4 separate regions of the Homo sapiens genome follow, and all the other regions are reported to be linked to region 1. Evidence: microRNA targets listed by miRTarBase, many of them from high-throughput screens and not tested one by one. Region 1 holds a microRNA gene; each other region holds the end of a gene's coding sequence. Distances are between the middles of the regions.

What was found. The annotated mature microRNA hsa-miR-31-5p reads AGGCAAGAUGCUGGCAUAGCU and lies in region 1 at 1,705-1,725, opposite strand. An mRNA with a match to its seed (bases 2 to 7 or 8) in the 3' UTR can be bound and repressed. Matches are read on the target gene's strand: a 7mer-m8 pairs with bases 2 to 8, a 7mer-A1 pairs with bases 2 to 7 and ends in A, and an 8mer does both.
Region 2: the mRNA of FOXD4 is a reported target of hsa-miR-31-5p. Seed matches in the 3' UTR shown: 7mer-m8 at 826-832.
Region 3: the mRNA of RPL35A is a reported target of hsa-miR-31-5p. Seed matches in the 3' UTR shown: 7mer-m8 at 2,384-2,390.
Region 4: the mRNA of MLH1 is a reported target of hsa-miR-31-5p. The part of its 3' UTR that is shown has no 7-base or 8-base seed match.

The regions. Positions count from the first base shown.
Region 1 is chr9:21,510,454-21,513,609 of GRCh38, forward strand. MIR31 (microRNA 31) reads right to left here and starts at 1,732; the gene lies at 1,662-1,732. The region is part of intron 1 of MIR31HG (MIR31 host gene); the gene reads right to left.
Region 2 is chr9:114,266-117,427 of GRCh38, reverse strand. FOXD4 (forkhead box D4) reads left to right here. Exons shown (of 1, transcript NM_207305.5): 1 at 1-1,197. The coding sequence ends at 628. Among named protein-coding and RNA genes, the nearest start is that of LINC01388, 2.1 kb to the right of the region's middle. RefSeq lists enhancers at 1-503, 2,275-2,881.
Region 3 is chr3:197,955,544-197,958,543 of GRCh38, reverse strand. RPL35A (ribosomal protein L35a) reads right to left here. Exons shown (of 5, transcript NM_000996.4): 5 at 1,934-2,794. The coding sequence ends at 2,771. All of the region lies in intron 2 of DRC9 (dynein regulatory complex subunit 9), which reads left to right. Among named protein-coding and RNA genes, the nearest start is that of DRC9, 2.9 kb to the left of the region's middle.
Region 4 is chr3:37,050,390-37,053,540 of GRCh38, reverse strand. MLH1 (mutL homolog 1) reads right to left here. Exons shown (of 19, transcript NM_000249.4): 19 at 2,695-3,055. The coding sequence ends at 2,888. LRRFIP2 (LRR binding FLII interacting protein 2) reads left to right here. Exons shown (of 28, transcript NM_006309.4): 28 at 1-915. Among named protein-coding and RNA genes, the nearest start is that of MLH1, 58 kb to the right of the region's middle.

The DNA of each region.
Region 1 (3,156 bases):
ATTTTCAGCTAAAGCTGTTTTGTGAGTTCTTAAAAGCCTTCATAGGCAAGATCAGCTTGTACAATGATGTCTTTAAACAAATTATCCTTATATAAAGAGATGCTTATAAAAGTTGTAGACTAAAACTACCTCACTTTTGTGCTACACATTTTTGTTAAATTAGCAGCTTAGTTTAATATACTCCAAGAGGCATGAAATGAAGGTATAATGTGATCTTTCTGTATGTTTTAATACCCTGAGTAATAATAAATAATGACAATCGAGAATAGTGACTGCTACTTTATTTCTTGGAAAAGCATTAAAATTAACATGAAATTTTATTTATTAAAAGCAAAGCTTTTTATTAAAACTTCAATGCTTAAAAACATGAAACATCAAACAGTATTTATTAAACATTAGTATTTATTAAACATTAAAATACAATTGTATTTACTGAACATTCTTACTCTTTAAAGTGAATGTGTAAAAACCACTTTTAAAAGAGATCTACAGATAATGAGTAACTCCAGAAACAAAGGAAGATGAGGAATGTGAACTAACCAGGAGAAGAACTTGAGATCCTTGACAATTAACTCCTTGGTCTCTCAAGATTTCTATCTTTACAAAGAATTCTACATGTACTATCGTTCTGGCATAGAATTTCCACACATTTCACATAAAATCCCTTGTCTCTAACTAAAGAAAACTTTTTTCTTAGTAGTGAAATAAATGTGTTGAGTGTCTACTGGTATGCATATATCAAGAATTTTAGAGACACTAAATTTTTAGACATGTGATAAGAATCATCTGACTAAAATACCTTATTTCCTTATCTTGAGGGTCCTATGGAGTCACTATTATTACTCTAATTTTACATTTGTGTAAACTGTGGCTCAGAGGTTAAATGACTTAAGAACGCACCAGTAATGAGATTTGACCATAAGTTTTACTTTGAAGCTCATGCTTTTCCCAATAAAATATGCTGACTTCCACAAGTCTATGGATCCAATGACACATTTACTGTGACTGCTTTAAAGAGTTAGGTTTGCAGGCCCAGAACTCAACATTATCTGTTTATTTCTTTATTATTAGTTTTGTGCCAGGGATTTCACCAAAGACATTTATAATGCAAAAACTATAATTATTTGATATCTCTTTTGCATCAGGGTAGAGTTTCAAAAATATGTATTGAGAACCTACTATGTGTCACACTCTAAGGATACAGTGGTTATCCCTAACAAGGTCCCTAACCCTCAAGAAGCTTACATGGTAGTGCGGGAGAAAAGACACTAAGCAAGTAAACAAATACGTTTCAGGGAGCACCAATGTTTCTGAAAAAGCAGAGTAATGGGATAAAGGGTGACTGAAGTGCTGGAGTATTTTAGATAGCATGGTCACAGAAGGCTTCTCTGAGGAGATGATATCCTCGCTGAGGCCCAAATGATGAGAGAAAGGTAGGCAAGCTAAGAGGCAAGAACATCCTAGGTGTGTCCAAGGAATAGCCATACAGGCCAATGTGGCTAGCATGGAGTGAATTCATGGTAGGACACAATACATAGCAGGACAGGAAGTAAGGAAGGTGAGAAAGGCCATGTCATGGAAATCCACATCCAAGGAAGGGCGCACATACACAGCAATACACGAAGGACTGGCATGCAGGTGGCCATGGCTGCTGTCAGACAGGAAAGATGGCAATATGTTGGCATAGCAGGTTCCCAGTTCAACAGCTATGCCAGCATCTTGCCTCCTCTCCAGTTCCAAGTTACAGGAGAATACTATGACTCTTCAGTGTTTTACTTTTCCAAAATTTTTCCTTTCACCTGAGGGAGGGAAAACACACTCATTAATTGAAAGCGCACTTATTTCTGATCATAACAACATAGTCTTCCTTAGAGTGTCCGCTTTTGAAGATGTAGTTAGGCACAGGAGGTTTGTGGGTAGTTCCATTTTTTTAATGGTCTTTGATCTAAAATGAACCTCGAGAATGTTTATGGACTACTTGTGAAACCACAGGGATGAAATTGTGACAAAAATTTTATTAAATCAATAATGTCTAAAGTTGATGACAGTTAATTATAGGCTATTACCACCATATTTATAGTCCACAAAATATCCCAGTGACTCTCAGTACAATTTTATTTTTACTCTAATAACTTTACTTGGTCAATTTCTGCCACTCAGATGTATTTAAACAATAACAAACTGTGGCTCAGCAGTGTGTAGTTAGTTCACTGCTTTATGTGCTCTTAAAAATAATGTTATTTTTGGATTTTTTTAAAGACATTCTTGCTCTGTCATCCAGGATACAGTGCAGTGGTGCGACCATAGCTCACTGCAGCCTCAATCTCCCAGGCTCAGGTGAATCCTCCCACCCTAGCCTCTCAAGCAACTGGGACTACAGGTGTGTGCCATCACTCTTTTTTTTTTTTTTTGTATTTTTAGTAGAGACAAGGTCTCGCTATGTTGCCCAGGCTGGTCTCAAACCCTTAAACTCAAGCCATACTCCTGCCTCCACTTCCCAAAGTGTTTGGATTACAGGCATGAGCCACCATGCCCTGCCAAAAATAATGCTCTTTTGAGCCAAAAATTCCCAGCTAGAAACTTATTTCACAAGTACATTTGCAAAAGTACCACTAAGTTCTAGGTCCAAGGATGTTCACTGCAACACTGTTTTTAATAGTAAAAGATTGGAGACAACTTGAACACTCATCAGTATGATTGATACAGGCTAAATAAATAATATAGTTATACAACAGAATATTTGGTGGTCCTTACAAAACAGTAAGGCATAAGAATAATGACATTATGTATAACTTTTGTGCAAGTGAAAATGTATACACAGACACATACCTGGAGGGCATACATACATGTTTTTTATTAAAGGATAAATGAGCAATTTATTATTTTAAATAAAAAAATTGGATAGGATTATAAATTATGTTTGCTTTCCTCTTTAATATGTCTCTATTAAAAAACTAGTAAGTAATACGTATTATTTACCCAAAATGGAGTGTAAGGTAACCTATAAAGGTAAAACATTTTGTTATATAGTGCTACCAAGGTATAGATAAGGAAGAAGCATACTCTTTTAAATATGATTCTAGTATCAATTGCCTTTGCCAGAAACAAAAGTCCAGCATTACCTAAGCCTGGTACTAGATATACACATATGCAGTC
Region 2 (3,162 bases), 21 Mb from region 1:
TCTGCTTGGGGCCCCTGCCCCGCCGCAGCCAGTCCCGGGGGCCTACCCCAACACCGGCCCCGGGAGACGCCCTTACGCTCTGCTGCACCCGCATCCTCCTCGCTACCTACTGCTCTCGGCCCCCGCCTATGCCGGGGCACCGAAGAAAGCAGAAGGCGCGGACCTGGCGACCCCGGCACCCTTCCCGTGCTGCAGCCCTCACTTGGTCCTCAGCCTTGGGAGGAGGGCAAGGGTCTGGCGTCGCCACCGGGAGGCGGATGCATCTCTTTCAGCATTGAGAGTATCATGCAAGGGGTCAGGGGAGCGGGTACAGGGGCTGCGCAGAGTTTGTCCCCGACCGCGTGGAGCTACTGCCCCCTGCTCCAGCGACCGTCAAGCCTGTCGGACAATTTTGCAGCAACAGCAGCGGCATCAGGAGGAGGACTGCGCCAACGGCTGCGCTCCCACCAAGGGCGCGGTGCTGGGCGGGCACCTGTCGGCCGCGTCGGCGCTGCTGCGGTATCAGGCGGTGGCAGAGGGCTCTGGGCTGACATCGCTGGCCGCCCCTTTGGGCGGAGAGGGGACCTCACCAGTTTTTTTAGTATCGCCCACGCCCAGTTCCCTGGCCGAGTCCGCAGGGCCCTCCTAGAGCCAGGTGGGAGTGGGGAGCGACCCGCAGCTGCTCACTCCACCTTGCGCGGCCCATACTGGGCGTGTGCATCTGAATCCCGCTGGAGAGCAAACACGAACTTCTGTTCCCTGCAAAATGGTTAGAAAGAAACAGCTGGATTACGTTCCTCTAAAAACCACCTGAACGTAACCTTCGCAGGGCGTCAAGTCATCTTTTCTTGCCTTCGGTTGTGGCTTCTGTGGCTTTCCCGATTTGCACATGTCCTGGGGTACTATGAACGTGAGTGGGGTATTTTGTTCTGGCATTAAAAGAAAAACAAGCAAGCAAACAAAAACACAGCCTCCGATGCCAAACATGTTCCCCCTTCTTCACTTCCTTGGAACTGGAAGTATTATTCCTAAGTCTAGTGCAAAATGCTTCTACTCTCTGTGTCTTCCTGATAGGGATGTTTAATGTAAGTAGGATATTAATTTCAGAACATTGATTTCTTATCTGTGTGTCTGACGTGCCATCTTTAATGTTAAAATTAAGGTGTTAAAATTAAGCCTAGTTATATAGACGAAATAAAATGCTAAGTCACTACACTACATCGTTTATTTTCTATTACGTCTCATTCTTCCCTTTCTAAATGGAACTTTTTAAAACCTACATTATTTTCCCTCAATTTATTTTCACAATTCATATTTATTATAGATAGCAGAAGTAATCCATTTTAATATGGCCTTTAAAAATTCCAAATATTTGAGGTTGAAAATGTCCTGGCTTTTAAAATAGGAAATTTACTATTTATGAGACTTCTAAAAGAATGAATAGGAGGGCATGTAAATATATTCTCCATTTATTTTTCCTCACCCCCCAACAAGCTGGAAAACCATTTGAGATCAATTTGGAATGTAGTGGCCAACATGTACTCAGGGAAAATAAAAGGCTATAAATATACATATATATATATATATATATATATATATATATATATATATATATATATATATATACACATTTTTTAAGCACTAGAATTTTCAAAACTTATTTCCTAAAAAAAAAACTCTGAAAAGACTTTGCAACTAGAAAGGTTTAAGTGTTACTCGGCGTCAGGGGACGGAGTGGGGGGAAACCAGACAAGAACGCCCATCATGAATTGCTCCCCACAAAGAAAACAAATTTCTAGGAACTTGGCCGTTTTCCCCTGTCCCGAGTGGGGTTCCCGATTCCGTGCCGCTTTGAGGGAAGCTGCTCTGTGAATGTGAGAAAGTTTTTCCCCCAGCCCCCATCTACTCCCCACCCCCAGCTATGAATTTCTTATTTCAGGAGGGAGGACAAACATGGAGACACATTTTTACAGGAGTCTAATTGGCCGATTTTTCTCCGGCTTCTCTTCTCCATCCCGTCTCTTGGAATTTCTTGGCATGCCCTACCTGAGATCCCCTACGGGAGATTTCCTCTTGGCTCCTGCGGTTCTGAGGACGTTCTGAAAAGTTCCCAAGCCCCATCTTTGGTAGCTGCCCAGACCCCAGCTTCCAATTCTTCCCTCTTCTTTGCACAGGCAGCCGTCAGCCCCATAGCCCCACCGGCGTCCAGAAGAGACCACTTTTAGCAAATCCGGCAGGGCTGGGGCAGTCTAAGAGTTTGGAAACAAACTGAGAATAGAGGGATCCTATGTCATGCCAGCTTCTCGCTGGTTTACGCTCCAACTCCCCTCTGTCCGTTGTGCGAAAACGTCTCCGGGCCGACCTTCCTTCATTTATTGCCAACAAACGTCCTGGGAGAGCGGCTACAGCCGCTGAACCCAGAAGGGACTTTCTCCAGGCTTTCTTGGCACCCTCCCAATCATCTTCCTTCTCTTGCCCGAGGGCAGATCACCCGGCTACGAACGTGGGTGACTGAGGGTCAGGCCCCTTCCCGGAACCGCCTCCAAGCTCCTAACTTTTGCCTAATGTGAAACCATATCCAAAGATGAATATTTAAACCATCAGTTCAGCGGCGGAGTAAATTGAACGTTATTCTCCGATCAAACAGGAGCTTCGGGTCCACCTGTTTGGAAGCTCCCAGGCGGCTTGGAGGGGTCCGGCCTTCGGGCGCGACCCGCAGGGGTTGCCTTGCCCGGCTCGCGGAACGGACGTTTACCCGTCGCAGCCACGAACCCACCAACGACACCAAGCACTGGCCGGGCAGACCAGGCGTCGTGGAGGCGCCCCAGCCCCCCAGCCCCCCGCAACGACGCGTCCCAGGGGTGCGCAGTGCTTGGCGCGGTGACCGGACCCGGCCGCCTTCCCGACCGCGCAGAGCGAGAGGCCACACCCTGGATCCCAGGCCGGGTCCCTGCGGTTCTGGGAGGGAGGTCCCGGACGCCTCCCAGATCTCGGGCTTCTGTAACCCCGAGGCCGGGTTTTAAAATCACGGCTCTTCCGAGTTACACGGAGAGTCCGTGGTCAAGGGTCAAGGGCGGCCTTCGACCCTCGGGATCGTCTTCTTGAGAAATGGCTGAGAGCTAAGCCTAGAGCTGCGCAGGGAAGGGAGCCAAAGAGCTGGCGCCGAGCGCGAAGGGCCGGGAG
Region 3 (3,000 bases), not on the chromosome of region 1:
TGTCCACAGGTTAACATCTTACAGCTTCCTCAAATTCAACTTTAGCTCCTCCCACAAAACCATCTCCTGATTCCCCAACTTTGTAAATGCACCATTATCCATCCAGCCCCCAAAGCCAGAAACATGTTAGAATTCTCCATTTGAGACTGAAAAGCCCACCTAATTTTCCCTTGTTTATGCTGGGATGCCATTGGGATTTGAAATAATCTGAGCTGGTGGCTCATATCTGTAATCCCAGTACTTTAGGAGAACAAGGCAGGGGGATCACTTGAGGCCAGGAATCGAGACCAGCCTGGGACCCCGAAAAAACATTTTAATTGGCTGGACGTGCCTGGCATGCACCAGATTCTCTGGAGGTTGTGGGCAGGGGATTGTCTGAGCCTAGAAGTTCAAAGGTGCAGTGAGCTATGATCACACCACTGCACTACAGGCTGGGCAACAGAAACCCTGTCTCAAATGAGTAAATTTTAAAATTTCCTGTGAATCAAGTTCTTCAGTGACGTTGTATTACACTCAAGAACAATCTTAAGCCTAAGATCCTCAGTTCAGTACAGGAGACCTCTCATGTGGCATTTTAGTTTTCTGGACTTTCCAGTCAGCCACTTGTGTTCCTAAAATCTTCCTGCCATTTCCTCTTTGAGATGCCGCCCTATTTCTTCCTCTACACTTTACGGTTTTATGTTACGCAGCCAGTATACCTACATGCCTCTATCCCTGAATACCCCGAGTACTACTGATCACATCTACTTAACTGGCACAATGAACACAGTAGGTACTTTTAGCTTATGTTGGCCTTTTGGAGTGGGTGTCCAAGATCAGCACTTCCTCGCGCTGACTGCGTAATTCCCAAGTTCAATTTCATTAGCATTCTAATATACAACTTCCAACTTCCGGCCTTGAAGTACTGCTCACTTCTGGTGAATACAGCATCAGTGCACTTTGTTTGCCTTAAAACCACAATCCTGGGAGGCTGAGACAGAATGGCGTGAACCCGGGAGGCGGAGCGTGCAGTGAGCCAAGATTGCGCCACTGCACTCCAGCCTAGACGACAGAGCAAGACTGTCTCAAAAAAAAAAAAAAAAAAACCACCACAATCCTAATAAATGAGCCTGGCAGAGTACTAACACAAGCCCATGTCCACGAAGCACGGGACTCCAACAATGGCAGCTTTGGCTTGCATACCACCATTGGACTGACCAAACCTTTCTTAGAACTGCCAGTGTGACAGAGGGACCTCTGGGGGAGGGCGTCTTGCTTTCTCTTGGGTCAGTATATCTCACTACCCTCTTTGTAGGTTAGCAGATTTGTAACAGGATGTTACTGGAGGAAGGGGAAGTGGGAAAGCTGGACAGTATTCCCACTCTTTTCCCTTACTACAAAAACTTTCCTTCTCAGTCCTGTCTCCAGGAGATGGAAGACCAAATAACACAACAGCCAGTGTGCTTTTCCTACCCAATCCTTTCTTTCACCCTCTTATCCTAATACATTTCCAGCATGTTAATTCTTTTGCAGCATAGACAAGAGAACCCATACACGCTGCAAAACTGCAAAAGGGCTTAGGTGGCAAACTCCCAGTTTCTTGTTGACATTTTCAGTGCAATTTAAAGATGTTAATTTAAAAAACTACCTGTGCTGTAGAGATCAGTAACCCTCAGGGGGCAGACAAAAAGACTGTTACTGCATCAGTTAGAAATGTAGTACTACCTGGGCAACATAGTGAGGCCCATCTCCACAAATAACTAAAAAGTTAACTGGTTGTGGCTGCACATGCCTGTGGCCCCAGCTATTTAGGAGGCTGAGGCAGGAGGTTTGCCTGAGCCGAGGAGGTTGAGGTTGAGGTTGCAGTAAGCTGTAATCACGCCACTGCACTCCAGCCCAAGCAACAAAACAAGACCTTGTCTTCAAAAAAAAAAAAAAAACCATACAGCAAAACTGATGCCTTAGTTGTTTTATTTTAGCATATCCCCAAGAAATCTAAAATATTTAGGAGGCCTGCTTAAAGTGCAATCTTGAACTTTACCAGATTAAAACATGAAGCCAAAGAAAGCTGCCACCTTTCCGTGCACTATTCCCAACCTCCATGTACCTACCATAGGATTGCTTTTTATGAGTGGAGTAATATGGCTTAATTTTATTTTAATATACTGGAATGCTTTGTCCAGTCACAAGTCCCAAGAGCTTCTCATCCCAGTCTATCCAAATGAACTGCCAAAGCCCATCAACATAATCTCCATTCAAATTTTAAGTTTCCCAATCTGCATTGAACAAATGCATAGTATCACAAAGCACTTGGCAGGTGTGGTGGCTCATAACTGTATCCCAGCACTTCAGGAGAGGCCAAGGAAGGAGGATTGCTTGAGCCCAGGAGTTTGAAGCCAGCATAGGCAAGAGTCAGACCCTCTCTACAAAAAATTTAAAAATGACCCAGGGATGGTGGCATGAGCCTGTGGTCCCAGCTACTTCAAAGGCCAAGGGAGGATTGCTTGAGCCTTTGAATGTGAGGCTGCAGCGAGCACCACTACACTCCAGCATGGGCAACAGAGCAAGACTCTGTCAAAGATACTCGCATTAAAACCCGTTCCCTTCTAAATCTCTGTACTCGCCCTGTAATTTTCATCACATGTCTCTCTGACCCCCTTGTACTCCAAAAATGCTGAGCAACCTCTATCATTTTAAGCATGTAGCAAATCAATTTAAGGTAGTAAGTTTTTTAATCCACTTAAAAATACAAGAGCACAAATCCACATTTATTTATTGATTTTTCGTTAGTTTAAATCCTTGAGGGGTACAGCATCTGCAGGGAAAAAAGAACACAAAACATTAGGTGAATGTTATATATACGTCTACAAATCAAGAACCGTAATACGGATAAATCTCTGAAAGGCTACCAATTACATGTTCTAGTGGTAAGGAAAGTTTTTATAGCCTTCAGTCTCTACGTGAACATACCGTAAGAACCGGCACTCATAAAAAACATGTACTGGCCAGGTGCTGTGGCTC
Region 4 (3,151 bases), not on the chromosome of region 1:
CCTTGGCACGGGTTCTGGAGGACAGACAGCAATTCTATGAGTGCTCACTGAGATACTTGCTGGAGACCTCAGAAAACACAAGTGCCTTCTCCACGGTGCAATTCAGACTTCAGTGATCTCCAGTGGTCAAAAGACATTTACCCTTAATATCAGACAACATTTATATTTTAGTGAAGAAACAAGTTCTCGGGTGGGGAATCTATGTTTCACTCAGATTTATATGTTTGGAGGAAAAAAGCCTTTTTTTGTAAAATATTTAAATTTATATAAGAAAATGTTAGAAAAAAATATGGGGAGTGTATATAAAACTTGCTTTATTGCATGGGGCAGGGGAAGTCCAGGCCTAATACTCCTAAAGTAAGAGTTGGGTCCTTTTTTTCTTCAATACAACTGTGCTGTACCTTGTAAAGTATTTTATCTGCTGCTTATTTGTGGAATGAAACCTCAAACAAACCCAAAGGGGGAGGGTAGGGCAGGGCAGGCAGATTGGAAATCTGCCTGCAGATTCTATTAAATACACCCTTTTGCCAACCACAATTGGCTACTGACATGTTCATTTTGTTATAGGAGACTTTAAAACAAATCATGGCAACCACATCCCTCTTCTTTTGTCTCCTTCTCAAGGAAAAACAATCTGGAATGTAGAACTTTTAAAGACTTGAGTTTCACCTTTAGAGGTACCCTGTCCAAGAGGTTTTTTTAAAATCATGGAGTGCAACTACTTTGCAGAATTTATGATTCTCTTTTGCTCTTAGTACCCAGGTGGTTTTATAGAAATGATTATTGTATCTTTAAAGTGCTTACACAGAAAATATATTGGGGGAAAATCTAGTGACTAAAGGCACATAAGATAATAAAACTAGACTTTAAAAAGGTAACTCAAAAGTGAATAAAATCTCTAATATTTGTTCCTTTTTTAATTAGCCCTTCATTTAAAAAATATGGATACCAATCTTCTGAATTGAGATGATTTTCTATACATTTTCTTTCTTTTTTTTTTGAGACAGAGTTTCGCTCAGTCACCCAGGCTGGAGTGCAGTGGCACGATCTCGGCTCACTGCAACCTCTGCCTCCCAGGTTCAGGTGATTCTTCTGCCTCAGCCTCCCGAGGAGCTGGGACTACAGGTGTGCACCACCACACCCGACTGATTTTTGTATTTTTAGTAGAGATGGGGTTTCACCATGTTGGCCAGGCTGGTCTTGAACTCCTGACTTCAAGTGATCTGCCCACCTCAACCTCCCAAAGTGCTGGGATTAGAGGTGTGGGCCACTGTGCCTGGCCTCTTTTTTTTTTTTGAGAGACAGTCTCGTGCTGTCACCCATGCTGGGGTGCAGTGGTATGATCTTGGCTCACTGCAACCTCTGCCTTCCGGGTTCAAGCTTGATTCTCCTGCCTCAGCCCCCCAAGTAGGTGGGATTACAGGTGTCTGCCACCACACCCTGCTAATTTTTGTATTTTTAGTAGAGTTAGGGTTTCACCATGTTGCCCAGGCTGGTCTTGAACTACTGACCACAAGTGATCTGCCTGCCTCAGCCTCCCAAAGTGTTGGGATTACAGGCATGAGCCACCGTGCCTCAGCCTATACATTTACTAATAGTAGCAAGTTGTGTGGTTGGGGGTGGGTAGAAAGGTGTTCTAAAGTGCAGGTTTGTTCTAGAACTCCATCCCAGCTAAAACCAACACACTGTGTGGCCCAGCTCTTGAAGCTCAGAAAACCCCTCTTCCTCTCCACTCAAGATCACCCAGCCTGTGCCCCACCTGGGCTCATGGAACCTCACTTCTGAGATGCCCTGGTCTACTTTATGGAGTTCTTATTGTTCAAAACTGACCTTGCCTATTTTGTGGCACAACAAATACGTCTGTAACATTTTGTCTTCCTAGTCTTTCCAAGTGAAATTGCTCCATTTCTTCATAAGATGAGAGTAGTCTGTTCTTTATCACTGAACTTTCTTCACTGAGTCTTGGAATATGGATTTTACCTTAAAACCACAGACATTCTTCCTTTCTGAGCTGAATGCTCCATTTCTCTAAATGTAGGCAAATATTAAGGAAGTTTATTTTGTCACTCACAGTTTAAATTTATATTTTTACATCATCCTTCAAACAAGATTACCTAGAAACTTCTTTATCTTAAGCTATTAGTACTCATAGTCATTAACAAAGTGGGCTAACTTAAAAACTCATACTTAATGCCGGCCGCAGTGGCTCATGCCTGTAATCCCAGCACTTAACTTTGGGAGGCTGAGGTGGGAGGATCACCTGAGGTCAGGAGTTTGAGACCAGCTTGGCCAGCATCGTGAAACCACATCTCTACTAAAAATACAAAAATTAGCCGGGCGTGGTGGCAGGTGCCTGTAATCCCAGCTACTCAGGAAGCTGAGGCAGGAGAATTGCTTGAACCCGGTAAGCGGAGGTTGCAGTGAGCCAATATCGCGCCACTGCACTCCGGCCTGGGCAACAAAGCAAGACTCCGTCTCAAAACAAAAAAACAAAAACCTCATTATAGATGAAGTAAGGACTATTTTCTTTCTTCAAGTTTTTTTCCTTAATAATTAGCTTTGGTTATTGTAGACACCAGATGATCAAATCAAGCTTTCTCCATGGTCAGTGCCATCAGAGCCTGTGACATGTTCAAGACCTCTTTTTGGCATCTGAACTGACACAATATATACATAATAAAATTAAATAAGAAATTATGTTAAGACACATCTATTTATTTATAATCAATCCACTGTGTATAAAGGAATACTATCAGAAGGCAAGTATAAGTCTTAAGTGCTACCAACACTTATGTTGGTACACTTTGTATATCACACTTTGATACAACACTTTGTATCGGAATACAGAGAAAGAAGAACACATCCCACAGTGCATAAATAACCATATTTAACACCTCTCAAAGACTTTGTATAGATCAGGCAGGTTAGCAAGCTGCAGGATATTTCCATCTTCTGTGAAATGTTTAGGAGGCAGAATGTGTGAGCGCAAGGCTTTATAGACAATGTGTTCCACAGTCCACTTCCAGGAGTTTGGAATGGAGCCAGGCACTTCACTCTGGAAAACACATTAGATGTCATAAGCCTCCCTGTTTGCATCCCAACATACACTGGTGTCCTGGCTGATGGGATGTGCACTGGGTCTGGAAAGACT